Regions from separate parts of the Homo sapiens genome. Here all the other regions are linked to region 1. Evidence: fine-mapped expression QTL. A gene starts in region 1. Each other region holds a variant in brackets. All regions are shown on one strand. Distances are from middle to middle. Region 1 holds the start of SLC4A8 (solute carrier family 4 member 8). Region 2 has its middle 59 kb from the start of SCN8A. Region 3 overlaps GALNT6 (polypeptide N-acetylgalactosaminyltransferase 6). Region 4 has its middle 9.4 kb from the start of GALNT6. Region 5 overlaps GALNT6 (polypeptide N-acetylgalactosaminyltransferase 6).

Region 1 (5,767 bases):
GCTGTGTGCCCTGGGGAAGTTACCTCTCCAAGCCTCAGTTTTCTAATCTATACAATGGGATGATAGTGCCTACCTCAGAGTTGTTGCAAGGATGAAGTGAGGCTATCCATGTAGCATGCCTCTCTGCCTCCCTATTGGTATGATGTGTGTGTGTGTGTGTGCATGTGTTGTCTCTGCCTCTACACATGTATTTTCCATTTTCTTGTCCACTTTATGCCTCTTTCTGGGCTGACTGAAGATTCAAGAAGGCTCTGAATTCTGTTCTGCTGTTTTTTTCTGATTTCTTTAGAAAAATAATCAGTGTGAGGTGATGTCCTTGGCTGAATACCCCCAGCTCCACTAGGACTTGTCTTCCAGCCAGGCTGAGAGCCATGTGTTTGAGCTTTTCCAACCAGGGTAAGGAGCAGTAGATGTTAGGAGCCTCGTGCTTAGAGCCAAGTGAACCAGCTTTTTCTGGGAAGGAGAGACCAAATCATCCCTGGGAGGATAGAGCCTGTCTTCTGCAGTGCCCCAGATAGCAGCAGCCTTAGCTGCTGCCTCTGTGGCCTACTTCCTTTTGTAATTTGCACAATAGGCCAGAAGATGGGGCTCTTGACCCTGGAGTCAAGGGCCAGAGGCTCTGACTTTTTCCACATTTGTACTGGAGAGAAGTCAGATCCACCAGTCCTCCCAGGAATCACCACTACTTCTCAATTCCTTTCCCTACCCTACCTACTCCACTTCTGCCATGGCTGGGACTTGCCTTCCAGGGGAGTGGGGGATGTGGGCACATCTTTCCTTTGGCCACCATCCTCGGCTCCTGAATTACCACGTTGCTAGAGTCAGTCTTTCTGACGCCCTGCCTCAGGTTTCCCCCTCTAATCCATTCTCCCCTAAGGGCAGATTTTGGAGATGGTACAATTTTTATAGGCCAATACAACATAGTGGTCAAGAACTCTAGAATCAGAGAGCTTGTTCTTGACTCGTCTCCTCAGGTGAATCTTTCCCCACCTCCTCAGAGAAGCTCTCCCTATCCCATGCCAGTTACTCTTGATCACATAACTCTTTATTTACTTAACAGTAGTGATTATAACTAGCGGTTATCTTGTTTGATGACTTGTTTACTTTCTCCCACTTGATTGTAAGGCTTATGAGGCCAAGGACACTGTCTTAATTGCTGTTTTCCCAACACCTAACATAGGGCACGATACATAGGTTCTCAGCAAAAGTGTTTTGAATTAATAGATGAATGATGGAATCCCAGCTTCATGACTGCCTGACCTTGAGTAAGTTGCTTAACTTCACTGAGCCTCAGTTTTTTACCTGTGAAATAGAAAAAGAGTAGAGACATTATGACTATTAAATGACACAATGCATTTATACCACTAAACCCAGGTTCTGGTGTGTGGAAGTTTTCCCTAAAGCCTTCAGCGTCCTGCTTTTTATCATTTAAGAAAAATAAAGTCTGAATGAATTAGCCAGATCTCCACAATTTGATCACAGCCTTTTATTTTATTTATTTTTTATTTTTTTGAGACAGGGTCTCACTCTGTCACCTCGGCTGGAGTGGAGTGGTATACTGAAGCCTCTCCTGGGCTCAGGTGATCCTCCCACTTCAGCTTCCTGAGGGGCTGGGACTGCAGGTGCATGCCACCATGCCTGGCTAATTTTTTTGTATTTTAAAAATAGAGATGGAATTTCTACATGTTGGCCCAAGTTGGTCTTGAACTGTTGGGTTCAAGGGATCCATCTGTCTTGGCCTCCCAAAGTGCTGGGATTACAAGTGTGAGCCACCATGCCCAGCCCACAGCCTTTCTCTATCACAACTATTACCTCCCACTGCTCTTCTCAATAACTTTCTGCTTTGGCCCAAATTGTGGCTACCCTGAATGGGCCATGTGCATTATTATTCTTAAGTCTTTGCCTAAGACTTGAGATGCTTGCTCTTCTTACCTTGGGTCAGCTAAATCTTACCCATGTTTTCAGACTTAGCTCGAATCCATGTCCTCTGTGAAACCTTCCTGAAGATCATTTTCTCTTCTGAATTTTTGCAATCTTCATGGTTTATATAATATTACTCATTAACATATACCCTGTTTCCCTGATAAGCCTGTTAAGCTCCCTTGGAGATATATATTTTAGATTTCTCTGCCTCTACAGTGTTACTTGGGCCTGTTCATTAGTAGGTGTTCAATACATTTTTTATTAGATTGAATTAAAAGCATTCATATTTACTAAGTACTTTCTATGTGCCTGGGATTGGTTGAGGCTCTGTTGAGTATACAGAAGGGCATAAGAAAAATAATCATTGCTTTCAAAGAACTTATAATATTTTAGTAAGCTAAAGTCAACATATAAAGTACTTAAATAACCACAGCATGACAACTGCTATAAGAAAGGTATGAAGTGCCTTGAGAATTCTGGGGAGGGTGAGATGACATCTGTTAGGGGTATCAGGGACAGTAGAATAAAGAAAGGCTTCTTGGAAGAGGGTGGCTTTTGAGATTAACTTTGAAGGATGGTTAAGATTTTGATGGACAAAAATGGGGATGAGGGTAGGATGTGAATTCCAGATTCAAGATGACAGGATTAGTAAAGAGATTGATGGAGTGTGTGGCAATGAACACTAAAACGCAGAGACTAGACAGGAGGCTTATACAGGACATCAGAAATACAATTCTGCTTCAGGGATACTGAAGCCCAACCTTGTTTCCAATTTCAGGACCAACACAAAGGATGGTAAGCAGGGGTGGAAAGTTTTAACATGTATCAGACTACCTTCCCCAACTGTAGCTTCTTTAGGGGCTGAGAATTATTTGCAACAATTCTTCCCCTGACCCCAATTTGGACCTACCTGAAGTCTGGTATGATAGTGCATATAAAACAAAAGGCCCCACGGCCGGGTGCCATGGCTCACGCCTGTAATCCCAGCACCTTGGGTGGCTGAGGCGGGCAGATCACCTGAGGTCAGGAGTTCCAGACCAGCCTGGCCAACATGGTGAAACCCCGTCTCTACTACAAATACAAAAAAATCAGCCGGGCGTGGTGGTGGGGACCTGTAATCCCAGCTACTCAGGAGGCTGAGGCAGGAGAATCGCTTGAACTGGATAGGCGGAGGTTGCAGTGATCCAAGAACACGCCATTGCACTCCAGCCTGGGCAACAAGAGTGAAACTTCGTCTCCAAAAAAAAAAAAAAAACAAAAAAAACAACAAAAAAAAAACAAAAAAAACCCAAAAGGTACCTTTCTTTTTCTTGAGGAGAGAGGGTTGCTTCGATTTTAGCCAGCCTCTCTTTTCTTATAAATCCAAATCAAATTTAATGCATTATTCATGATATTCTAACCTTGTGTTAAGTCAGTAGTTCTGTTGCTAAATAATAGTTTGCCTTAGATCATTTCCTGGAAAAGTTCGAAGCCTTTTTGTGGAATTGCTTCAACAGTCATCCTTAGCTCGACCCTGTCCGTGTGTTTTGCTTCTGACTTGAGACTCAAGAAGAAGACCTAAGTCATAGTGAGACTGTGAGGGAGCCTGACACTGCCTGCCTTCTTCAATTTAATGCTCTTTAATCTGGCCATTAGCTCAAGGAAAAACAATTAATTTTAGAAGGCCCTCTCCCCTCATCCGCAATTACCTCCTCCTGCAATCGCGAAGGATGTTTGCCCGGAATTTAAACATCATCTCCCAAGGAATGAAATCAGAATAGGCAAAACCGACACTTTCCCAGTTTTCAAGGGTCAGGTGCAGCTGCAAATAGAAGCAGAGATTTTCTAGCAAGCAGTTGGAAGGACCTTCACGCCCAGAGGCCCCTGAAGGGAGGGAGGCGGTTTCCAAGGCAACCGGGCCCGGGAGCGGTTGGCTCCCCGGCTCCTCCCCCTCCCCGCGGTAGCCCAGGGTACCGCCGGACAGCGTCCTCCCGTGCTCCGCGCCCTGATTGGCTGCGCAGGCCTCTCGCTGATTGGTTGCGGCGGATGCCTCGCGGGCCGGTGGCTATGGAGGCGGCGGCGGTTGATGGTTGACCGTTGGCTCCGGGGTGGGGGTCGCCGTTCGAGTGATCTGCTCAGACCCGACCAGAGGGCGCGGGCTGCTGATGCTTGGCTTGGAGCCCGTGGGGGAGACCTAGTTCGGCTCCGCCATGCCGGCCGCCGGGAGTAACGAGCCGGACGGCGTCCTCAGCTATCAGGTAGGGCCCCGCCTCCCGCGCCTCCCGCTCCTCCCCGGGGCGCAGCCTCCTCATCCTCTGCCCACCCTCCTTCCTTCTGCCCCCGAGCCCAGGCTTCCCAGGCCGCTCCCTGAGGGCGAGGGGAGGCCAGCCCGGGACACCAGGGGGCGCTCCGGGCGGTTGGGGACCAGGCCAGGGCTGCGAGAGAGTGACCTTGGGCCGAACCTGGGATCTGGCCCATCTCTGCCGCATCCCTTGCGCCGCCCGCCCAGGAGCCCTGACAGCCGGCGGGCGGCGACCTCTTGTTCTCCTCGCGTCTTTCTGTTGGAAGGGGCCGGCGTCTGGCCTCGCGTTGTCCTGCCAGAACGTGGGCAGAAAGGGTAGCAGGGACCTTGCTCTGGTGGGGCACGTCTTCTCTTTGTGTTTTTATTTCTGGGGGTTTCTGGTTCCTCAGTGGTTCAGAGGAAAAGCCAGAAAAGACTCTGGAGGCTGGGACCAATCCCTGATAGGGTGACCCGGTTTGTGACTCCCTCTGCCCCATTGAACAGACACCTGAAAACTTCTGGGTAGGGACTGCAAACTGGGCTGAGGATGTGTGGAGGGGTCAGGAACAGGTGCTTATTTAAGGGAATTAAAAAACCAAGGTTAAGTAACTGGTATTGGAACTGTTGGGGCGGCTAATGTAAGGAAAAGCATTGGACTAAGTGTTAGAGTCTGTAGTTTGAAATCCTACCTCTGCCTCACACAAACTTTGTGACCTTGAGTAAGTCACTTGCCTCTTTGAACCTCAGTTTCCCCAGCTATTAAAATGGGAATAGTTATGTCTGCTTTGCATGCTTCACAGGGTTGTTTTGAGGATCAGACGAAGTGCTGTTTGTGAAAGGGCTTTGTGGAGTAATGTTTATTGTGTGACACTCAGTGAATGAGTGGCAGCCCATTGAATTCTCACTCCCCGTTTCCTGTGCAATCAGATGGTGTGGTTTCTGCCTTGGAAAGAGGGTTGGAAGAGGAGGCAAGTCTGAAGTACAGGGCTCTGAAGAGGGTAATGGGCCATCTCAGGAAGGATGACACGTCTTGGAAACAAGTGCCATGTTGACCTCAGGGATGGTTTCCCCGAGGAGGCAGGGAAAATATCCTGAGTTTGCAACAAAATGAGTATCAGACACTGACTCTCTCCTCTTCTTCCTGGTTAATAGTTTGCTACAATTAATAGAAGATACATCCTTCTTTCCTTGCTCTGTCTGAAAAGAACAATATCTAAGATTTTGGAAAATGCATATCTAACCCCCTTAAAGCCTATTAAATGTATTCAATCTCTGTTTGGGATACAATGGTAAGAAAAAATAGGCAATGTTCTTGCCCTCCTGGAGCGTATCATTTAGTGGGGGAGGGGAGAAGTACTATTTTTAATCAAATATCACACAAATAAATATCATAAACTGTGATAAATGCTTTGAAGAAAGATAGGCAGTGCCATAAGCGTGTATAACAGTGGTTCCAGACATGGTCTCAGAGAAGATTTTGCTAAGGAAGAAAATCTGGGCAAAGAGCTAAAGGATGAATAAATGTTAACTGAGGGAAGAGGGGGATCACAGGGCCTGAGAGGCAAAGAGAACAGCTACACAAAA
Region 2 (5,938 bases), 110 kb after region 1:
AATGCTGGGAATGGCATCCGGCACATAGTAGGTGCCATGTAAGTATTTGATACATAAATATGGATAGAGCATTAAGGTTTTTCCTGGCTGCCCTTTATCTTGGAAGGCAGCCTTGCTCCAAGCAAATCTCCAGTGCCTCAGACAAGCCACAGGAATCTCCCAGGATCTGCTTGCTGAAGGTTCAAAGGGCAGAGCTAATGACAGGGAAGAGGCTTTCTCTCCCGCACCTTCATCATCTTCACTCCACAGTCATCTCTTCTTCCTGCTTGCCCTCAGAGTGGGTTGTTATCTCCAAGGAATCCTTCATATGCCAAAGTCCAAGAACTGACCTGTAACTAGACTAGACTAAACTTCCTGAGACACGGACCATGTCTGCCATGTCCATTTTTGCATTCCCCATAAAGCACCATATCTAGCACACAGTACGTGCTCATTAACCCTGTGAAATGAATATATGACCCAACCCTGAGGTAAGTTAGCCTGCAAGTATAACTTAATTAGGCACAATAATATCTGGGGAGAAGTCAGACCAATACCAACCACATAGATTAATTACAGAACAGTCTCAGTTGGGGCCATGTTGAGAATCTGCTTACTGGTGTCTGCGCAGGAAAGGGTTAACGCAGCAGGTATGGGTTGCTCAAACCTTGCACATTCCAAAGAAAGGACTGGGCCCTTGACTGGCTCCTGGGAGGTGACCTTTGAGCCCTTGGAAGATCCTGCCTGGTTGACTTTTTTTCTATGCCCCAGGCCTTAGGCCACACTATCAGTCTGACCAGTTTGTGCTAATAAAGTGATTTATGGTGAATGTCTGGTTTTGTATGCCTAAGGCCCTGCCTGGGCTGTGCACCAACAGTTTGACCTCTCAGTAGCGTGGGGAACTAGAGACTGAGTGGCTAAAATAAGTCATGTGGGTACTGCCACCACATAAAACCCCTGGACAACAAGGCTCATCCCTGGTTGGTAATATTTTGCACGTGTTGTCATGCATAGTTTTTGGGGGAATTAACTGCATTCCCGTCAGGCCCACTGGGAGAGGACACCTAGAAGGTTGAGCCTGATTGCCTGATTTCTCCTGGACATCGCCACCTACTTTGTCCCTTTGCTGATGTTCATCTGTATCCTTTCCCTGTAATGAACCATAACTGTGAGTATATCAGCTTTTCGGAGTCCTGTGAGTCCTGCCAGTAAGTCATTGAATCTGAGGGGGGTCTCAGGGCACAGATAATGCAATGTCTGTTATCAAAGAAGTTTAGAAGTGGATAATTTGTAATGATCTTTGTCTTCAGTTACTCTGATGCCTCTCCACACAATTACTTCATTCATTCATGCAACACGTGTTTTTGAACACCAACCATGTGTGGATACTGCATTCCAGGCACTGGGACATAGCAGTCAGCCAGACAAAGATCCCTGCCCTCATGGAGCTCATGTTCTAATGGGGGAAGGTGAGAGACTAAGCGATACACATAATGAAAAAGGTGATAATGCTATGGTAGGAAGAAGTAGAATAGGTACAGGGGATCAGGAGCACTGGGACGGGGGTGGGGCTCCTTGAGAAGGTGAGATGTGGCTTGACAAAGGTGAAAGTGTGCCATGGGGGTTCCTGAAAGTTCTCTGGAGGACTCATTTGCCCCTTGAGTGCTTGGGCCATGGCTCTCATTCTTTAATGAGCACCAGAATTACTTAGGAAGTTTGTGAAAGAGGCTGATTTCCAGACCCCTTTTGTGTGTGTGCGGTGGGATGGGGGCTGGCGGGGAAGTTAAGATTATAAAACGCACTTGCCGTGAGCCTGATGCTGGAGGTCCAGGAACTGCACTTAGAGACCCACTCCATCAGGCAGGCCTGGGCAAGGAATGAGAAACAGCCCTTGCTCTCGGAGAGCTCCCACTTGAGTGGTAACAGAAGGGAGAGCTGGGTAAAACACAGTGCCTGTCAGAGCATCTCTCTGCCATTAATGCATCCATGGGGAACGTCAATGCCCGAACTGACAATTAGCTGAGGGTGGAGAACTCTGAAGGGATGCATTTTGAGGAGCTGGGGTAGAAGGGATTAGGGGACAGAGGTGAGGACTCCTGCAATAAAAATACAGGTTCCCCAGAGCAAGACCAGAGGTGCTGAGAGACCAGAAATGATCTCTTCTGAAAAGACAAGAGGGCTTGGAATCTTCCTGGGTTTCCCCAGTGGTAGTTCTGTCTGCAAGACAAAGTCTTTGGTCATGGGGAGACTGGATAAATAGAAGGGGCCTTGGAGAGAGTAGCAAAGGCGGTCGGAGCCGCACCCAGCTGTCCTCAGATCCCCTTTCCAGCTGTGTATGTTCACTGTCGATGGCTCCTATCAACACCTGTCTTCAGACGATAAAGCACGGGCTCCTGGGGCTAAGTCACCCAGATGCACCAAGAACTGGAAGGGGCTGCCAGTTGACGTCCCCCTGGGGCAGCCGTGGTCAGCCATTGA[T/C]GGGTGCAGCAGTACAAAGCCCTGTTCCTTTGCCCTGAGGGAGGGCAAACTCTGTGCTGCAAGGCACGCCCCTGGAGCTCCCTCAGGCATCAGGCTGAGGCTGGGACTTCACCCCAAATCAGACACTTGCCTGGCATTTACTCTTTCCCTATTCTACTGTCCCCACTTCCTTATAATATTTTCTTGGGAATATTTCCTTAGTAAACCACTTGAGCATGAATTATTGTCTCATCTGACCATAGACAGAGAAATACTTTAAGCACCAAAGCAACCCATACCTCGGCTCCCAGTTCCTTAGGGAGAGTGGGGAATAAACTCCCATGGCAACCCAGAAAGGCAGTCCTCTCCCCTTCCCCAGGCTGGACTGCCCAAACCTGCCCGGCCTGACTGCTCTAGAAAGGGCACCTTAGTGTCCATGGAGAGGTGGCACCAGGGCAGGTGGCACCAGGTTTCAGTTACCGCCCCTTCTTAGTAAACCCAGAAAGCCGTCTAGACAGTTCTGGGCATGCAAAGCCCCACTCAAGACTGGGCTGAAGAATCGGACTCTCCTTCCCGTCTTTGCTATGCCTGCCCTCTGCTGGAGGAACTCATGAACGGCAGCTGGTTAGAAGGGAAGGAGTGAGCCAGAAGCACCAGGGCTCCAAACCCCACCCATCCTTTAGGGTCCAACTCAAATGTCGCTTCCTCCAGGTAACCTCCTCTGATTCCCGCAGCTGAAAGCAAGCTCTCTGCTGTAAGCCCCCACGCCCTTCCTCTACGCGTCCCTAATGGTGCCGTCTACCTTATGTCCTGGTTATGCATTACATGTTACCTCCTCAGCTCATCTGTGAGCTCCCAGGGGAAGAGGATTTTTTTTGTTGCTGGAATTTACTCCCAAAGGATTTTGCACCTCCCTAGAAATATCTCCCACAACTAAGCCCTAAATTCACATCATTAAAGAGAGCCTTTTGAATTCAAGTGTTGTATCTCTAAAAAGGCCCAATTAAAATGTAACTATGAAAAGACATAACCAAGTTGCCTGGACTGTGAGTCATTAAACATTTAGGACATTAGCAAATTAATAGAGCTCAGAGTGCGGAGAGCCGAGGTGTTATCAGAAATGTTTTGGGTGCCAAAGAAAGATGAGAAAAGGAAGAAGGGTAAAGAAAAAAAGAGGAAAAAGTTGAGCATGAGGAACTTCTGAAGAGAGTTGACTGGATAAAGCTGGGGAGGGGCTGGGGGGTTGGAGGGAGGCAGGAGGGTAATAAAGTCCCATTTACCCTGGGGTAGAGATTCCAGAAGAACAGGTGGGGGACACATATCAATAGTGCCATTTTATCTTGTGGACCCAAAAAGAAGTTACTGGGTCCAAATGCCAAAAAAAAAAAAAAAAAGCCCAGTAAAACAAAATTTATAAATGCTTAATTAGACATCAGTAAAACATAACATTGTCAATTTCATTAATTGTTAAATTTAGTATTTATAAATATTTATTCCATTTGAAAAGAATTTTGTGGGTTAGATTTTTTTCACTTCTTAAGAATTCCTGGGTAGAGATGGTGACTCCTGAGTAATCGTAGCCAATAATAAATTAAATATTACTCATCGCCAAATAATTTCCAAAGCAAAATTATAAAATTCCTTTCAAACTTACAGGGCAGGGTCAGGCACGGTGGATAATCCCAGCACACTTTTGGGAGGCCAGGGCGTAGTGGGTCACTTGAGCTCAGGAATTCAAGACCAGCCTGGGCAACATGGTGGGACCTTCTCTACTCAGCCTCCTGAGTAGCTGTAGTCCCATCTACTCAGGAGGCTGAGGTGGGAGGATCGCTTGAGCCCAGGAGGTAGAGGCTGCAGTGAGCCGTGTTGGTGCCACTGCACTCCAGCCTGGGTGACAGAGCAAGACCCTATCTCAAAAAAAAAAAAAAAAATTATAGGGCAAATTATATTTAACATAGGATATGAGTGTGTTTTAATATATTTGCTATAATAAAACTAGGAGTCTCTGGGGCTTACAAAGTTCTTAAAATGGCCTTTAATATCAAAGATCAATTTCCTCCATCTGCTTCACAACAGTTTCACCCTAGATGATATCAGAGTCCTCACCTTTCATAAGCAGACAAAGCACCCAGAGACAAACTGCTTTCTTTTCTTCAACACAATTTGAATTTACCTTCTTGTCCACCTGCATGGGCAAATTAGTTGGTGATTAAATGCTTAGAATAGCTAACTATAAAGTTTTTCTGCTCTCAAGGAACTTTCCAGAGGGAAACAATGTTATCATTTCTTCTGTATATTTTCTGTGCATTTTATGTATTTCCAATCAAAAACTAAATACATATTCTCCAACTTCTCCTTTTAAACAAACATTAATATTCTGTGTATGTTGCTCACATTGCTATATTCCTCTTTTTTTCTACTTAACAATTGAATCCCCCTTGTAGAGCCCATAATTATTAGGAAATTAACAGTAACTCTCCCTCCACAATGGTCGAAAGGGGGAGTAAAGTACAGCCTTTAAGAGGTAGGAGCAATTTGCATCCAGAAAACACTGAGCTACTGAATGTAGTCAAAGAGAGCCCCTAAGTCATTTTATGCAGAAATAATTTAGACACTGGCAGAGCATGTCAAAGTCAGGGATATGGACTGGGTGAGCTTGTAGAAACCTGATGGCCAAGAGTGACAATTCTTCAGTGCAAGAGAAATGGTGCTGGGGAAAACCAGAGCCTTGTCTTTCTCCTCCCCTTCCTCCTCTTCCTCTTCCTCCTCTCCCACTTTTCTTTCCTCGCTTATTCTTGCTGGAAAAAAAAAAAAAGGTTGCCAAGAAGGCTGCAGGAATAGCCAAACGCAAGCAAAGAGAGGCTGATTATTCCATAAAAGCTGCACACACACTGGTGGCGGGGCGGGGGCGGGGGGGGATGGTGCAGGCAGCAGAGAACAGAGCTGTCATGCAAGCAGCCAGGGAAGCCGGGGCTGTCCATCCTTAGGAGGGAAAAGGAAGGAAGTCCCAGGTTTAGTCAAGTCATGTTTTCTTGACTTGTATTTAGAAACTTGGAGAATTCTACAGTGAAGTGATATTTATTTCGTGGCTGCTGTGCACCAGGCAGTAGGACACAGCAGGGAGCCAAACAGATAACAGTCCTGGTTTCATGCCGCTGACTTTCTAGACAGGGAAAAGCCAGTAAGCGAACACATGGCACATGTATGTGACATAAGAGCAGGCTGTGATCAGTGCCACAAAGACACAGAAAGAGGGTAAGGGGACGGAGAATGATGGGGTTATATGTGAGGTGTGTGCCTTTAGCCAGGGTAGGCAGGGGAGGCCTTTCGGAAGGGGTGGTGTCTGGGCGGAGACACAAATAAAGATTCCATCTCTGGGTAAAGTGGGTCCCAGCACGGAAGCCCTGGGTCTTGGCAGTGTGCGGGGGCTTGGTGGAGATGAGGCCACGTGGGGCAGAGTCCCAGGGAGAGGCTCATCCACAGGTGAGACCAGCACTAAAAC
Region 3 (5,938 bases), 62 kb before region 1:
TAAAGATACTGGCCCAGCCCTCACATCCAATCCCAAAAACCCCGCCTTAGCTTTGGAGTCCCCTGCTTATCGGTCCATCTCCTGTGACTCCCCAGACAATTATGTCCCACTCCCCAGTGCCGAGGCTCTCAGAGCCATTCCTCCAAAGCCTCCAAAGCCTCCGTAAGAGGCTTTTCCTCCAAATCTCCTTTCCCTCCCTTCCCCTCCAAAGGGATGCAGAGACTCTATGCGTAGGGACAACATTCTCTAGCTTTTGAAACCTATGTGCCTTGTGGCCTTCTCCTGGGCTCTAGCTCACAGGTCCCTGAGGGTGAAGGGAGGCGCCAGATGGTAGAGATGAGGTGGGTCCCAGCCATTAGGCCCATGAACAGGGTCTGGGGGCCGTACTTCTCTTCATCTAAACCTCTCCGAGAACCATTTCCTCTCACCTCTTGGGCCATCTTTGCTGCCTGCAGATTTCTCCTATAGAAAATCTTCTTGTAGCTGTCCATCCAGACCTCTGCCAGGCGCACTTGATTGCGAGCAATGACACTAGTGCCCTTGGGGAAGGTGTGGGGGCTCTTGGTCCGGAACACATGGCCTACGACAGAGCAGGGGATGATCTCCAGCTGGCCCCCACACTGCCACACCTGATGTAAGAGGAGACAGGATGAGGCCTTCAGTGGGCTAGGTGAGACAGTCTCCCCATAAGCAGCTCTATTCTATTCCCAGAGCACCAGACCCCAGGTCCAAGGACTTGGGCAAATGCTGCTCTCTCTCCCTGGGAAAAAGGATACCGACCAGGCTTCTTCCTAGGCCATGACTACACGATCCCAGGCTTTCTGATGTTGGTTCACTCTGACTTAAGCACAGGGAGACTGCAGGGTCCTGTGTTTACCAGGGCCCACTTTAGGGAAAAGCCTGCTGGTTAATTTTTGTTACCTGTGCCTGTATACCTACTCTGAGCTCTGATCACTTGGCTTTTTGACCTGGAAATGTGAGTTTATCAGCTCCCTCAGGTGATAAAAACCAGAGCATCAGTCTGTTAATTAATAGCAAGGATAGTTGGCTGCTAGGTGGCTAGTGGTAGTCACTTGGGCCCTTAGCACACTGGCTGCCTAGGAAGGTGAACAGAGGTCAGAGGCTCATGGAGGAGCCTAGGATTGGGCCGCTGGGAGTTGGGGTGACTGGCAGGTGACCCTTTTCTATGCTGGTGGGCTGGCTGAAGACATCCCTCCCACTGGTTTCTTCTTTTGGGTTTTAGGTGGGAAAGTATGTTGTTATTCATTTTAGTGTGGCAGCAACAGAAATACATAATCGTTATAGTAACAGCAGGCATCAATTACGTGCTTAATATGCATCAGGCACCGTGAGAGGTGACTTCATAAATGAGCTCATCTACTTACTAATTACTTTTCCATGGCATGGAGATTTGTGTAGGTTTCATGGAGAGGCAATCCTTGCTTCCTGACCTAATCCTGATTTGCCTAATTCCTGGAATCTCTCAGAGTTCTGGGGTCCACCAGAGTTGGGGCCACCATCTTCTCTGACTGTTATGAAGGGCTTATTGTACATAGGTAGGGAAACTTCAAAGGTTACCAGGGCATGTGTCCTTTGAACTGGGAAGGGGAGCCTGATTTTTCCAGAAAAAGGATGATGACTGGTTACTCATCTGTTTTTTTTTTCTAGCCCTAGTTGTGAACATACTAACCTGTTTCTATCTTCACCCTAACCCTTTCCCACAGACATCGCAAAAGAGTCCCCAGTCACCAGATGTCCAGTCCTCATTACCCCTATTATTCCTTGCCTCTGAGAAGTTGTGCCCAGTAGTTTGTTTTGAGCTGTCCAGGCTGACTGCCCAAGCCCTACTGCCATGGACAGGGGGAGCAGAAAAGAGGAAGAGACACACTGGGAAATAGCCACCCTTTCTAGTTCAGTTCCAGATGGGATGTCCCTGATGCCACCTCTGCCTGAGAGATGTTTCTCAAGCTGTCGCCTGGGATGTTGTGGTTCCCCCCAAAGCCCTCTTCACTCTCACCCGGAAGGACATTTCCACGTTCTCCCCTCCCCAGATCTCCATCTGATTATCATAGGTACCGATGTGCTCAAAGTAGGACTTGGAGATGGAGAAGAGGCCACCAGCAAACGTCGGGGATCTGGAG[A/G]GACAGAGGGAGAAGTGTGTGCATCTTCTGGGAGAGGAGGAGCGGAGCCTGGCGGGGAAAGCTGTTTGTGGACTCCCCTCCTAACCCACCTCCCCCTCCTTTCCTCTTTCTCAGGACGTGCAGCCCCTCATCCACTAACTCACTCATCATTTAGCTTTTACTATGTCCTCTTCCCCTTCTAGGACCAGGTCAAGGAAATATGTAATTATCCTCTAAAAGGCACTCATTCATTCGTTCAACCTAGGATGCACGTAACACTGGCCACCAGGGCCCGTGCTACATGATGGACACACAGAACGGAGAAAGACAGATCCTATTCCCCCAGAGCTCAATCTAGTCACAGAGGTTAAAGCTACCATTAGTTACTTTTTGGCAGCAAAGTGCCTGGAGCCTAGGAGATACTCAACTTTCAGAAGCTGTGTGAAATTGTTTTTGAAAATAGGCAGGATTCAAACCATGAATAAATGAATGAATGAATATTGTCAGCTGGGCTGACTCCATTCTGTTTCAGGGCCCCTGCCCCTCAGGGACTATTAAGCCACAGTTTTAGTAGGCGCCTAGCCCTGGTGATTTACACTGCATGAGAAACTGTAGATTTGGGGAGAAGTTGCCAGTTGCTTTTAACAGAGAAAGCTGATAAAAGGTGCTCCTGGAAACAGTGGAAGGTCAGGTGAGATCAAGCTCAATTTGGGCTACAGGGAACATTTAGAAGGTTATAAAAAGATTCTGGCTTTCAGACACAGGCAGGGAGGTGTGGACTCAAGATAAGATAAATTGACAAAAACATCTAATTCCTAGAATTTAGATACCAGGTTGCTTCGAAGAGGGACTGGGCTAAGCGTTAGGGTATCGAAGCGGACCCGGGGAAGTATAAGCAAGATGGAATGCTGGGGTGGGGGCCGGTGAGACATGGCAGGAGCACAATCATCAGCTGCTGGTTTCTGTTTGGGCCAGCCTGGCATGGCTAGGGCTTTGCTGCCCTCAGTGGGCAGCTTCATGTGGTACAACCAAGCAGAAAGATACAGAACCCCTGTAACCCCAGAACCTATCTAGGTGCCTTACACACAGCTGGGGCCCAATCACTGTTCATTCGCATGATCCATCAAGGTGCCTACCCAGGAATGTGACCCTGGTGTTACCCTGTGGTTGCTCTTGTCTACCTGAAGTTGGCTCCTGCAGCCACTTTCTGGAAGGAATTTCAGTCGTGCTCAGGCTGGCTTCCTATCACTTTGGAAGAGGCTCTGGCCTCTCCCAGGGGTCTTAAACCGGCACAAGTAGCACCCTGAGAGGCTCAGAGAGTGCTGGAACTGCAGAGGAGCACTTGGAAGCCAACCTGCTTCCTCCCCCACAGGCCCTGAGTCTTGTCTTTGAGAAGTCTCCCAGACCGAGAAGTCACTGATGGATTAGCCATGAGGACAAACCCTGCATGGGAAGCTTCACTGTAAATTCACAACCACAGGCAACCTCTAGTAAACACCCTTTATGTCCTGGCCTACCCCTAGAATCCCCCAGGTCCTCTGCCTCTCCTCTTAGGCTCTGGTTGGCTTGAGATGGGAGGCCGGGAGGGGACTGTCAGCAGTCCTCCTGGGGTGGGGGCGCTACATGAAGAGCCTCGGCAAGCCATGCATGCTACCGGGGCATGTGGGCCAAGGAGCACATTCATTCCTCAAACACTGGAGCTTTGTCTTCCAGTTGTATGGCCCTTGGACATTGAAGCCTGCGACGTCAGTGATGGGTGGGGGCCAGGTGCCCTCTTTCTGACTGTGCTGCTGTGTGCCTGGTCACTGGCATGGGGGTGGGGGTGGGGATCTGTTGCAGTGCACACCAAACAAAAGGCAGCTATGAAACAAACATTGGGTCAGTGGAAAGTTCCAATTTCTTTTCTCTCTTTTGCCTTTTCCTTTCCCTCTCTCCTTCTAATGGAGACAGAGCAGCTGGCTGTTCAGGATCTGTGGGATTTCTCCCTGTGGCATTCACCTGAGTTCCTTTCTACTGGGACTCTGAGCAGGTTTTTTTTTTTTTCTTTTTCTTTTTTAAGAGATGGGGTCTTGCTATGCTGCCCAGGCTGTTGTTAAACTCCTGAGCTCAAGCAATCCACCTAATCCACCTCAGCCTCTCATCTAGCTGGGATTACAGGTGTGGGCCACTGTGCCTGGCATGGACAGCATTTTTTAGGATTCTGGGCACGTGGAGAGGAAGAAGCACCAATCCTTTCCTCCTTTCAAACCTTCCCTCTTATCTCTGGCTACTGTATCTCCAACCTCTGCATCCCTCCGTCCTGGATGTATATTCAGTTGAGCCTTAAGTATACTGGCCAGTCTAAGATAACAATGACACAAATAATCCCAAACCACAGGCTACACTAAAAGTCACTCCTCAACTTGGTTTGTCTGAGACAACTGTTAAAATAAACTTACAGTCTCCAATAACACCAACAGGCTGCCTGGAGAGGGGAGGATGGGGTGAGTATAAGAGGGAAAGGTGAGCCCAGTGGGCATTAAACTGTGGGTTGACTTCCAATTGTCTACCCTGCAGCTCAGGGGCTGGCACACAAGAGCCTGTGGGCAAAATCTGGCTGCCTGGTTTTAGAAGCCTCTGGGGCAAAAAATTATTTTTACATTTTTTAATGTTTGTAAAAAAAATAAAAAATAAATAAGATGAAGAATATGCAGCAAACTATATGTGGCTGGCAAAGCCCAAAATATTTATCATCTGGCCCTTCACCAAAGAAGTTCAGGGCAACTGCTACAAACTTCACGCTGCAGAAAATGTGTCTGTTTTCTTTTAGTATATTCTCAGTCTTTTCAAAGACAGTCACCTGGGGGCACATACCACTCCCTCTTATTACAGTGACTATTCCACAATGGCCTCCATCACATCTCTTGCCCCATCTGCAAGCATGGGCCACTCCTTTTATGTGTAGGGAGGAATAAACTAAAGAATGTATAGCCCTTAGTTCAGTGCCTGGCACATGGTAAGTGGTGAATAAGAGCAAACTGTCATGGTGAATAAGAGCAGTGCCACGGTTAGGGCCAGACAGTCCGGGAAGTGTGTCCTTGCTCCACTGTTGCTAGCTGCATGATCTTAGGTCAGTGTTTATCACTATGAGCCTTAGTATTCTTAGTATTGTACCTGCTTCATAGGGAGTGAGGATTAATCACAATATGTCAAGTGCTTGATAGAGCACCTAACAAATGTTGATGTGAGATGGCACAGGTTCCTGGAACTGGGTAGGACTGGGGCCAGGTTGGGGGCTCACCAGGCTGCGGTCCTTACTTGATGGGGTAGGTTTCATCCTTGCGCCTCTGCTTCTCATGTGGAGGAAGTGTTTCCCAGCCGAAGGTCAGGCTCCAGTCAAAGTTGCCTCGGCTATGGACTCTGCCCCTCTGGACGGGCTTGGCGAACTCAAAAGTATTAAGGTCGATGGTGACGATGTCTGGGCTCACCACCACTGTCTTGTCCTCAGCGATTCGAGCCAGGAGGGGCTCCAGCCAGCCGTGGAAGCACTCACCTGCAGGCCCCAACCAGGAGGCAGCAGTCAGGGCCCTGCCCACAGCAGAGCCCAAGCTGCATCCTGGAGGGAATGCCCAGGAGGATAAGAGACAGTCCACCTACTCCTGGGTTACAGGCAGCAAGCCCCACAGCTACAGGGAGCACACAGAATTTCCTAAAACCCTTCTACCACCCCTCTACCCCCAAAGGCGGAGGCAGCTTTGGCAGGGAGAATGGAGGTCTCAGGGGAGTAACATGGTCAACTCAGATGACCCAAAAGCACAGGGAGGCCCTGGATGGTATCT
Region 4 (5,938 bases), 23 kb before region 1:
AAGACGGGAGGATTGCTTGTGTCCAGGAGTTTGAGACCAGCCTGGGCAACATAGTGAGACCCCTGTCTCTATAAAAAGTACAAAAATTAGCCAGGCATGGTTGTGTGTGCCTATAGTCCCAGCTACTCGGGAGGAGGCTGAGGTGAGACCCAGGAGGTCTCAAACTCCTGAGCTCAAGTGATCCACCCACCTCAGCCTCCCAAAGTGCTAGGATTAAATCCGTGAGCCACTGCGTTCTGCTCGAGTATCCTTATTTTTACAAGTGAGAATTTTATAAGCACAGCAGTTCCCTGTAACTGCAGTCTGAGCCCTTAGCCACTACTTTTTGCAAGTCTGTCTCTCCATTTATTCAAGTTTCTAGTTTATGATCCTCAGAAAAGTTTTCTAGTGTTCTCTCTCCTAATCTTTACAGCTCTTGTTAAAATGATTCCTTGGCATTTTATATTACCTATTTTAGGAGACTCTTGATCAGTCTTTCTTTTGTATAACCGAAGCCTCCTAATATCATACAATTAATAAGTGTTCCTCTCTTGGGGTTGTCAAACTGTAACTATGGACTTTCTACTTAAATCACACAAGATCATCTCCTTAAAAGCAATCAAGTGCCCAAGATCTGTCCTTTCACAGTAGAGAAATTTCACAACTGCAATGAATAAAACATCCAAATGCTTGTAAGATTTTGCTGTGAGAGCTTTTTCTGCTCAAAATTATGATTTCTTATTTAATATCTCTCTTTAAAAGAAGAAACATATGCACATTTAACCTTCTGAAATCTTAATTGGATTTCAATCTGACAGTTGTTTTGCCCAAAGAGAGGTAATAAAAGGGGCTATAAACTAACTCCGCAGAGCAAACAATCCTCCAGCTAAAAGCAAAACCTGTTATCTTCCCCTAAAAAAAGAGAAGTTTCTGTTTCTTTCTTTTTTTCTTTTTTTGAGAGAGAGTCTCGCTCTGTCGCGCAGTCTGGAGTGCAGTGGCCTGATCTCGGCTCATTGCAATCTCTGCCTCCCGGGTTCAAGCGATTCTCCTGTCTCAGCCTCTGGAGTAGCTAGGATTACAGGCGTGCGCAACCACGCCCAACTAATTTTTGTATTTTTGTAGAGATGGGGTTTCACCATGTTGGTCAGGCTGGTCTTGAACTCCTGATCTCAGGTGATCCACCTTCCTTGGCCTCCCAAAGTGCTGGGATTACAGGCGTGAGCCACCACACCTGGCTGAAGTTTCTGTTTTCTTAGACATTTGAAAAATCACAAATTTCATTAGGATTGAAGTCTATCTGATATTAATATTACTTTGGATTGTAAGTAAAGGAGAGGTGATAGAATAACTCATTGGTAGATGAGTCCAGATGTTTAATGTCCTCTTAATATCCTAAAATGTTTGCCTCATTGTTTATTAATTCCCGTGGAATCTTATTTACTTATTTTCAATAGGTGATATGTGCATATGGCAAAAAAAATCTAAAGCTCAAAAGTATAGTGAAGAGGGAGTCTCCCTCCTTCTCCCATCTGCAGTCACCTAGTTTTCCTCCCCAAAGGCAGCCACTGTTACTGATTTCTTTTGATTCTTTCTAGAAACATAGTTCAGAGGAGTCACCCTGATTTTGGCAAGTACTTTAAATAGCAGCTTCTTAATTTTTTTTTTATTACATTGCCCATAATGGTTAAAGTTATTTTAAAAGTAGTCCTCTTACTGAGCTCTCTTTGTGGCTCTGATAGATTTCCAGAGGATTCTCTTGATTTTCTAGGTAGACGGACATATCAGCAGCATTCAATTTTGGCAAAGTGAAAACAGTTTTGGAGTGAGACCTGGGTTGAATCCTGACTCTTCCAGCTGTCTGATCTTAAATCTAGCCTTTAAAACATGTTGGGCCAGGCGTGGTGGCTCACGCTTGTAATCCCAGCTCTTTGGAAGGCTGAGGCAGGCAGATCACGAGGTCAGGAGATTGAGATCATCTTGGCCAACATGGTGAAACGCTGTCTCTACTAAAATACAAAAAATTAGCTGGGCATGGTGATGCGTTCCTATAATCCCAGCTACTTGGTAGGCTGAGGCAGGGGAATCGCTTGAACCTGGGAGGTGGAGGTTGCAGTGAGCTGAGATTGCGTGACTGCACTCCAGTCTGGTGACAGAGCAACACTTCGTCTCAAAAAAAAAAAAAAAAAAAACCATGTTGGCACTGTCCAAAGGTAGCACAGAGGTACGAAGTGGTCCCTCCTCCTGGGTGTGGTGGGTGGAGTGGGCAGAGGCCATGCAGACCCAAGCACTGCCCCTTGGCCCTCTCCTGGGTTTGTTCCACCTGGACCTGCAGATAAATCCAGAGGCCTTTGATCTCAAGGATTTCTAACCACCCAGAGATCAGGAGGAAAGACTGCAAAGGAAGCCCTAAAGTAGAATAACCTTTTCTTTCTCCATGAATGGAATGTAAGTTATGTTTGCTGAGGGCAGATTAAAATAGATTTTATTGTTTGAAATCAGGAATTTACAGAAACTCTTTGAAGAGCTACTATCATCGAAGACCTTTAAATCCCCCACTGTGGTAGTGGGCAAAATAGTCACGTACAATTGTAATGTGTATAGATGTGTATAGGTTTTCTCAGAGTTGGGACCCACTGCCAGGCAGGGAGTTGGTGGTATTTGATGCTGTTGTTTGGGGAGGAGTGGTACTAAGAAAAAAAACCATGGTTAGTGAGGAAAAAACAAAAAACACAAAACACACTCTCAGTTGCCCATAGAGTTATATCAGTTTGATGGGAT[ACC/A]CTAGAACACCTCAGGGGTCTGTGAATCCTTTAACCACTCAATGGAAAAGGTGACTGGGGTATAGATTGTCTAGTTTGTTTATATGACATAACTTTTTTCCAACGGTACTTGAGAGGAGTGTGAATGAACTCCTTTATATATATATATATATATATATATATATATATATATATATATATATATATACATACATACACACACACACACACATATATAAACATATATGTTTATATACGTATATAAACATATATGTTTATATACGTATATAAACATATATATGTATATACATATATATATATTTTTAAACAGGGTCTCACTCTGTTGCCCAGGCTGGAGTGCAGTGGCACCGTCACGGTGAAACGGGAAAGGTTCCCTTGTCCCCCTCACAGGGAGTGCAACAAGGGGAGTGGCTCGCTTCTTTAGGGCCCGGCTGCTGAAATCTCTATGGAACATACAGATGGGCAGGTTGTGGGGTTCAGATCCCACGGCAGCGTCTACCTTTGGACAGTGCCAACATGTTTTTCTTTTGTTTGTTTGAGACGGAGCGTTCCTCTGTCGCCAGTTAGTGTTTACAGCTCCTAGCCCCAGTGGGCGTGTGCTACCGTGTGCTCTTTTAATTTTGCCGTCTGTAGGCGGCTGTGCTAACCAGCTGGATTAGACCCTCTGCCTTATCGCGAGGTTTTCTGTATCCCGGGTTCTTGCCTTGGTGTACCGGAAAAATCAGATCATATGTGGGCTTGGAGAATGAGTGCAAGGTTTTATTGATTTTAAGTAGCTCTCAGTAGATAGGGGAGCCAGAAGGGAGATGGAGTGGAAAGGTGGTTTTCCCCTGAGTTGGGCCGCTCAGCAGCTGGGCTCTCCTCTGACTGCCCCAGGCAAACTCTATGTCTTTCCGTGGGCCGATGGCGTGCCAGCGTGCTGGCATCTGCCACTGCATGTTGGTATGCTCTTCCACCAGTGTATTCCTCTCGATGTCCAGCTGCCTGTGCGTTCCTCTACTGATCTGTTCCTCTTGACGTCCAGCCGCTTGTGTCTCTGCCCGCTCGGGTCTCGGGGTTTTTATAGGCACAGGATAGGACTGTGGTGGGCCACGGTGGTCTTGGGAAATGCAACGTTTGGGCATGAAAACAGAAATGCCTGTCCTCACCTAGGTCCCTGGGCACAGGCCTGGGGGTGCAGCCCTAGCCAGGGACCACCCCCTTCCCTTCCCAGCACTTCCCTGCCCCACTCCCATATCAACTCTTCAATGCAGCCTCAGCCTCCCCAGGCTCAAGCAATCCTCCCACCTCAGCCCCCTGAGTAGCTGGGAGTACAGACATGTGCAACCACACCCAGCTAATTTTTCTATTTTTTTTTGTAGAGATGGGATCTCCCTATGTTGCCCAGGCTGGTCTCAAACATCTGAGCTTAAGTGATCCTCCTCCTTCAGCCTCCCAAAGTGCTGGAATTACAGGCATGAGCCACAGTGTCTGGCCCCTTCGTATCTTAACCACCAGGAGAAACAGACCTGAAGTGATGCCTTGATATATGTGTGTTATGCAAGACTAGAGTAAGATTTGACAGGCATATATGGTTACAACAGGGGGTGAGCTCAGACTTTGAAAAGATATTGGCTTCACTCCCTAATCATCAAGACTTGGAATATCCTGGGATTCAGCTGTTGTTGAAGGGAAACCATTCCAGGTTTGCCAAACAATTGAGTGACTTAAGGGGTGCAAAGCTAGAATGCTTCAAGAATAGAGGGAGAAGAAGCCCTGCTGTGCTGATGGGCTCTCTATGGTGTTATCCTGTCCTGGCATTTGCTACCCCGATAAACTCACAGGTGCTAAATTTAAAGGCTAAAGTGAGGCCTGGCACAGTAGCTCACGCCTGTAATCTCAACACTTTGGGAGGCTAAGGTGCGTGGATCACCTGAGGTCGGGAGTTTGGGACCAGCCTGGCCAACATGGTGAAACCCCGTCCCTACTAAAAATGCAAAAATTACCTGGGTGTAGTGGCGTGTACCTGTAATCCCAGCTACCTGGGAGACTGAGGCAGGAGAATCTTTTGAACCTGGGAGGTGGAGGTTGCAGTGAGCCGAGACCGCGCCATTGCACTCCAACCTGGGGTACAAGAGTGAAACTCCATCTCAAAAAATAAAAAATGAAAGCTAAAGTGGTCAGGGTAGTTGACTCCTAGGCATTTATTTGTCCCTTTGCAATTAATCTAAGCACCATATGGTGATTCCACTCTCCTTGCCAGTGATGGGCAAAGACGGGTGTCTTCTGGGGGTGCTTGTCACTTATCCTGTTCTTCACAGCGTTATCCCATGGCCAGATGCTATGGGAGAGGCATGTCTCAGTATGGGACTGGGGGTCCCTGATAGAATCCCCCCCAGTGAAAGGAGAGACTCTGAGAATGACTGCATGAAGTCCCCCAGTTAGCTGGCAGTTCTGTAGTCATGGGTAAGTTGTTTAGCCTGTTTTCATTTTTTTTTAAAGGACAATTATATAGAGTCTGTTGTGAAATTTAGATTAGGTAATAGGTATAAACTGCTCAGAACAGTGCTCAGAACATAATAAATGCTCTATGTTCAACAAGAACAACAGCAACAAACTCAGAAGCACTCCTCGCTACCGCCGGGGAGACCCAGGATACCTAAACTTTACTGAGTTGGGGCCACTCAAGCCTGAACAGAAGGATCAGTGGAGCCAACATGTGAGTTTCTTGATATGTGCCTGTTACTCCACCAGAAAGCGTTACTTACTCATTTCCAGAGTTTGGGCAGGAGCCATGACAGCCTGTTGATGAGCTTGGCTGAATCATGAAATTTGGCCTGGGTTTGAGGGTGGGCAAGAATGGCCGCTTGGATCCTGCTCAAAGTTCTTTCGTTTTAGGTTTACTCCCAAAGCAGCTGAAAGCAGTGCACAGGATAGAAATGAAACAAGGGTACATTTAGGTGGGTGGCTGCTGCTTCCCATGGCCTCTTGTGTCAACTCCCAAAGAAGCACCCCTCAGAGTCTGCCGATGTTACCATTCAGTGGGGGAGAAAGATGTTTGCCAGACTGGAGCAGCAGATAACGGCAGGTTCACTGCCTTTATACCCCAGCCACATGGCACCCAGAAGGAATAAGAACACCTATTTTATTTAACACCCGGCAATAATTCTGTTAATCAAGCCATGTCACCCAGGTCTAAA
Region 5 (5,938 bases), 50 kb before region 1:
GTCACAAAAGGACAAATACTGTATGATTCCACTTATGATAATCAAATTCATAGAGACAGAAAGTAGAAGGGTGGTTGCCAGGGGTTGTGGGGAGGACAGCGTGGAGAATTCATGTTTAATAGGTACAGAATTTCAGTTTGGGATGACAAAAAATAAGTTATTGGCTGGTTGTGGTGACTCACGCATGTAATCCTAGCACTTTGGGAGGCTGGGAGTTCCAGACCAGCCTGGTCAACATGGTGAGACCCCATCTTATTAAAAAAGGGAAAAAAAAAAGTTCCGGAGATGGTTGCACAATAATGTGAATGCATTTAAAATCAATAAACTGTGGACTGAAACCGTGAAGATGATACGTTTTATGTCGTGCCTTTTACTACATACACACATGAAAAATCCAAACACTGTCGGTGGCTTACGGAGGTCTCACAATTTGGTCCCGCTAGCCTTTTAAAAAATTATTATTATTATTATTATTATTATTATTATTATTATTATTATTTGAGATGGAGTTTTGCTCTTGTCGCCCAGGCTGGAGTGCAATGGTGTGATCTCAGCTCACTGCAACCTCCGCCTCCGGGGTTCAAGCAATTCTTCTGCCTCAGCCTCCTGAGTAGCTGGGATTACAGGTGCCCACCACCATGCCTGGCTAATTTTTGTATTTTTAGTAGAGACGGGGTTTCTCCATGTTGGCCAGGCTGGTCCCAAACTCCTGACCTCAAGGGTTCTCTTGCCTCGGCCTCTCAAAGTGCTGGAATTAACAGGCATGAGCCATGGGCCCGGCTCCTTACACCCACTCCACCAGCACTCTTTCTGCTCCCTGGCTTACTTTGTTTAAGCCACACTGTCTTCTTTCTGCCTCATTAACAAGTCAAGCCTCAGGCCTCTGTGTTGGCTGCTCCCTTTGCAGGGAGTACTAAGAGTAGTCTTTCCTGGCTACTCCGGTGAAAAGAGCTCCCTAATTACTCACTCACTAACCCATTGCCCTGCATTCTTCTTTTTTTTCCCTCTAATTTAGTTAAGCTGGTGGAGTGTGCCAGACAGGGAGGGAACCCTGGCTGCTGACCTAGCCACTCAGGAATGAGGTCTGTGCCCTGGTTCTGACTCAGAGGTGGGGAAGAAAAAGCTCCCCAGCTCAGCACGCGGTCTCCTCCCCCATGGTATCAAATGCCCTTAGACTCACTCTCATAGGGCTACTACTGGGTGCCTGGAGTGGAGGTCAGAGAGCAGGGACATTGTATTTCGGCAGAGACACAGTCCTGTTTGTGTGTGTGTGTAATGAGAGCTGGTTAATCTGATCAAACAGTCAAACGTGTGGGAAATTTTATCCCACTGTGGACGGCAGAGATTTCTGACCATGGATCTGAGGGTTTTTTCCTCCTTTCCTCACTGAACTGAATGTTGCTTAAAGTATCTCTAGCGTCTGAAAGCCCTCTGGGTAGGGTTGTTTATCATAGGGTCCACAAATTCCCTGGAATTAAATGCAAAAATGTGGGTTTTGCATATTATTGTGGGCAGTGGTGCACTATTCTAGGGATTTTAACAGATTCTGAAAGGATGCCAGGACCCAGAAAAATAAGAATGACTAGCTTAGGTTTTTCAGGCAGGTGATTGTTTTGTTTTTGTTTTTGACACAGGGTGTCGCTCTGTCACCCATGCTGAATACAGTGGCATGATCAGGGCTCACTGCAACCTTGACCTCCTGAGTTCAGGTGACCCTCCCACCTCAGCCTCTCGAGTAGCTGGGACTACAGGCACATACCACCATGCCCAGCTAATTTTTTATTTTTTTGTAAAGACAGAGTCTTACTATGTTGCCCAGGATGGTCTTGAACTCCTGGGCTCAAGTGATTTTCCCACCTCAGCCTCCCAAAGTGCTGGGATTACAGGTGTGAGCCAGTGCGTCCTGACCATGCAGATGATTTAGAGATGCTGGAATTGGCCTTTGGAGAGAATTGGCTTTAGAAGAGAGTCCAGGGCAACAAGTCCAGGACAGACAGAGAGAAGGTGAACGTGTATATGGTGGCCTGCTAGGGGCGGGTGCTCTGGAGGGGATACTGGGGCTACTGCCAACTCTGCCCTACTGAACACAGGCTACTCTGCCTGTTAGATGCTGCCTATGCCAGCCTGGCATTATGTCACTTGTCTAGCTAGTCAGAGGAGTTGCCTACCTGGGCACTTGCAGCTCACAGAGTCACAAAGTTTAGGGTGAAAAGTTAACAGTTTAGAACCCCCACGTCCAAGGCTACGGGAGCCCACCTCTTGCATCAGCGTGACCTGGATGTGAGACACGAAGTCAAAGGAAATCACTTTGGAACTTTAAGGCTTAATGAATGCCCTGTTGGATTTTCGATTTGCATGGGGCCTGTAGCCCCTCTGTTTTGGCTAATTTCTCCCATTTCAAATGGTTGTATTTACGCAATGCCTATACCTCCATTGTATCTAGGAAGTGACTTAACTTGCTTTTGATTTTACAGGCTCATAGGGGAAGGGACTTGCCTTGTCTCAGATGGGAGTTTGGACTTGGACTTTTGGGTTAATGCTGGAATTAGCTAAGACTTTGGGGGGACTGTTGGAAAGGCATGATTGTGTTTTGAAATGTGAGGACATGAGATTTGGGAGGGGTTAGTGGTGAAATGATATGGTTTGGCTGTTTCCTCACCCAAATCTCATCTTGAGTCGTAGGTCCCATAATCCCCACATGTGATGGAAGGGACCCAGTGGGAGATAATTGAATCATGGGGCAGTTTCCACCATGCTATCCTTGTGATAGTAAGTTCTCACGAAATCTGATGGTTTTATGAG[G/A]GGCTTCCCCTTTTGCTCGGCTCTCATTCTTCTCTCTCCTGACACCTCATGAGGAAGGACATGTTTGCTTCCCCTTCTGCCATGATTATAGGTTTCCTGAGGTCTCCCCAGCCCTGCAGAACTGTGAGTTAATTAAACCTCTCTCCTTTATAAATGAGAATGGACTAATACACTCCAGTACAAGAGATTCAGGTGAAAGAGCTTCCGAAGGATGGGTAGCATAGGGTTAGGAGGAGAAAGATAACGAAAGAACCCAGTTTGAGAGGAAGGACCGCTAATATGCTTGCTTCCATTCCATACAACCTTTCCATTGCTACAAAGATTCCCTAGAGATCACTGCCAAGCTCCTCCCATCTCTGCCAAACTCTTCACCCTTCCCTTTCCAGAAGCCTAATCTATACATTCCTTGTCCACCAGACCCTGTCATTGCATCCCTGATACTTGCTTGCCTTGATTTATTTATTATTTTTTTTTAGAGACTGGGTCTCACTCTATTGCCTAGGCTGGAGTACAATGGTGCAGTCAAGGCTCACTGCAGTCTCAGCCTGCTGGGCTCAAGCAATCCTTCCACCTCAGCCCTCCAAGTAGCTGGAACCACAGGCACATGCCACCGTGCCCAGCTAACTTTTCTATTTTTTATAGAGATGGGGTCTTGTGACATTGCCCAGGCTGGTCTTGAACTCCTGGCCTCAAGCAATCCTCCTGCCACAGCCTCCCAAAGTTCTGGGATTACAGGCATGAGCTACTGTGCTTGGCCTATTTTACTTTATTTGTATCTTTTTTAGAGACAAGGTCTCACTCTGCCATCCATGCTGGAGTGCAATGGTGCAATCACAGCTCACTGCAGCCTCAATTTCCTGGGCTCAAGTGATCCTCCCACCTCAGCCTCCCAAGTAGCTGGGACCACAGGCAAATACCACCATGCCTGCTAATTTTTTATTTTTGTAGAGATGGGATTTTGATATGTTGCCCAGGCTGGTCTGGCCTTGCTTTATAAGTGCTGCCAAGTATCTGTCTTCCCTGGGAAGATGTGAGCTTCCTGAAGAAATGAACTCAACAGGGCTCACACTCAGCCCTTCCTTCCACAGCCCTAGTCCTCTTTTCAGCATCACCCCTAACCTAGAGGAAGGAGGGAGGCTGGGGGAGGACAAGGACAGGAAGCAGCTCTACTGGAGTGGCCCCAGCGCTTACACTGGGAAGTGTGGAGTCAGTTCCTGCCCTCACTATTGGGAGTTTGAGCACAGGAGGTCAATCTGGGAGAGCCCCAGACACCACATGCCTCCTACGAGGAGGGCTAAGCTTGTGGAGACTCTCAGCCTAAAGGTGTCTCAGTCCCACAGCCTTTCCTAGTTCAGGCCCCATCATCTCCTACTCTCAAGTGAGTGTAAGAACTTCCTCTCCAGACTGTGAGTCCTCTGCCTCTCTTCCTGCCGATTATCCTCCTCCAAAGCTGCCATCCTTCTGAAATGAAGTCACAGTACAGATGAAACACTTTCAACGACTCCTTCTTACTTTCTAAATAAATGCTTTTAGCATGACATGAATGTCAATTCAACATTTTTTTTTTTGAGACAGGGTCATGCTCTGGCTCAGCCTCCCGAGTAGCTGGGACTACAGGCACATGCCGTCATGCCAGGCTAATTTTTGTAATTTTTATAGAAAAAAGGTCTTGACATGTTGCCCAGGCTGTCTTGAACTCCTGGGCTCAAGTGATCCACCCGCCTCGGCCTCCCTAAGTGCTGGGATTACAGGGGTGAGCCACTGTCCCTGGCCAATTTAACATCTTTTAAGTCTCATTTCCTAAACAAACCTAAGCTTCAGCCACACCAGATCTCTTTAACAAACACATTCATGTCTTTAGGACTGTGCTTATGCCATTCTCTTGTGGGAATGCCCTTCATCCACTCTTCTCTCTTAGACACTCATCCTTTAAGGCCCAGCTCCAATCTGGCTTCCACTGCAGACCAGCCCTAGCCACGCCAGGCAGAAATGGCACCTCCTGGCTACATACTCCATGGTGCATTGTTCTCGTACCATGAATAAAATGGAATGCATGCTTGTGACACTCTTACTTGATGCCAGCCACTCTGTGGCACATGAATCTCATTTATGACCTATCTCATATCCCTCACCCACCATGTAAGGGACTCAACTGCTCTTTTTTTTTTTTTTTGAGATGGAGTCTCACTCTGTAGCCCAGGCTGGAGTGCAGTAACATGATCTCGGCTCACTGCAACCTCCGCCTCCTGGGTTCAAGCGATTCTCCTGCCTCAGCCTCCCGAGTAGTTGGGACTACAGGCATGCTCTGCCACGCCTGGCTAATTTTTGTATTTTTAGTAGATACGGGGTTTCACCATATTGGCCGGGCTGTCTCGAACTCCTGACCTTAAGCAATCTGCCTGCCTCGGCCTCCCAGAGTGCTAGGATTACAGGCGTGAGCCACCACGCCCAGTCCTTTTTTTTGTTTTGTTTTTTTGAGAAGGAGTCTCACTCTGTCTCTCAGGCAGAAAAGCAGTGGTGCCATCTTGGCTCACTGCAGCCTACGCCTCCCGGGTTCAGGTGATTCTTGTGCCTCAGCCTCCCGAGCAGCTGGGACTACAAGCGCGCACCACCACACCTGGCTAATTATTTTTTGTATTTTGGGTAGAGATGGGGTTTCACCATGTTGGCCAGGCTGGTCTCAAACTCCTGACCTCAAGTGATCTGTCCGCTTCAGCCTCCCAAAGTGCTGAAATTACAGGCTTGAGCCACTGTGCCCGGTCTGCCCCCATTTTTTGAAGAGGAAACAGGTTCAGGGAGGCCAAATGCTTGTCCAAGGTCACAGAGCTAGGAAGGGTCAGAGCTGGGATTTGAATTCCTAGGTGTTGGACTCTGCAGTCCATGCCCTTTCACACCTGTTACAGGTGCATCACTGCCACAGCACTGTGGCTAGTGTTGTAAGAGGCTTCTGGCCGGGCACGGTGGCTCATGCCTGTAATCCCAGCACTTTGGGAGGCTGGAGCAGGCAGATTACCTGAGTTCGGGAGTTCGAGACCAACCTGACCAACATGGAGAAACCCCATCTCTATTAAAAATACAAAATTAGCTGGGTGTGGTGGCACATGCCTGTAATCCCAGCTACTAGGGAGGCTGAGGC

The links.
Region 2: its variant is fine-mapped to the expression of SLC4A8 in whole blood (TOPMed, PIP above 0.99).
Region 3: its variant is fine-mapped to the expression of SLC4A8 in spinal cord (GTEx, PIP 0.91).
Region 4: its variant is fine-mapped to the expression of SLC4A8 in whole blood (TOPMed, PIP above 0.99).
Region 5: its variant is fine-mapped to the expression of SLC4A8 in whole blood (INTERVAL, PIP above 0.99).

The regions. Positions count from the first base shown.
Region 1 is chr12:51,420,876-51,426,642 of GRCh38, forward strand. SLC4A8 (solute carrier family 4 member 8) reads left to right here and starts at 3,956. Exons shown (of 25, transcript NM_001039960.3): 1 at 3,956-4,160. The coding sequence starts at 4,113. SLC4A8-AS1 (SLC4A8 antisense RNA 1) reads right to left here and starts at 4,453. Exons shown (of 3, transcript XR_001749147.2): 1 at 4,365-4,453; 2 at 3,612-3,724; 3 at 1,024-1,302. RefSeq lists silencers at 3,715-3,924, 4,195-4,404 and an enhancer at 4,515-4,574.
Region 2 is chr12:51,529,064-51,535,001 of GRCh38, forward strand. No RefSeq gene overlaps it. Among named protein-coding and RNA genes, the nearest start is that of SCN8A, 59 kb to the right of the region's middle. RefSeq lists an enhancer at 3,139-3,198. The variant T/C (reference allele first, on the strand shown) is at 2,458.
Region 3 is chr12:51,358,704-51,364,641 of GRCh38, forward strand. GALNT6 (polypeptide N-acetylgalactosaminyltransferase 6) reads right to left here. Exons shown (of 12, transcript NM_007210.4): 6 at 5,418-5,652; 7 at 2,018-2,135; 8 at 429-629. Among named protein-coding and RNA genes, the nearest start is that of CELA1, 15 kb to the left of the region's middle. The variant A/G (reference allele first, on the strand shown) is at 2,142.
Region 4 is chr12:51,397,833-51,403,770 of GRCh38, forward strand. It overlaps a transcript of SLC4A8 not described here. Among named protein-coding and RNA genes, the nearest start is that of GALNT6, 9.4 kb to the left of the region's middle. The variant ACC/A (reference allele first, on the strand shown) is at 2,758.
Region 5 is chr12:51,370,601-51,376,538 of GRCh38, forward strand. All of the region lies in intron 4 of GALNT6 (polypeptide N-acetylgalactosaminyltransferase 6), which reads right to left. Among named protein-coding and RNA genes, the nearest start is that of GALNT6, 18 kb to the right of the region's middle. RefSeq lists an enhancer at 714-1,280. The variant G/A (reference allele first, on the strand shown) is at 2,803.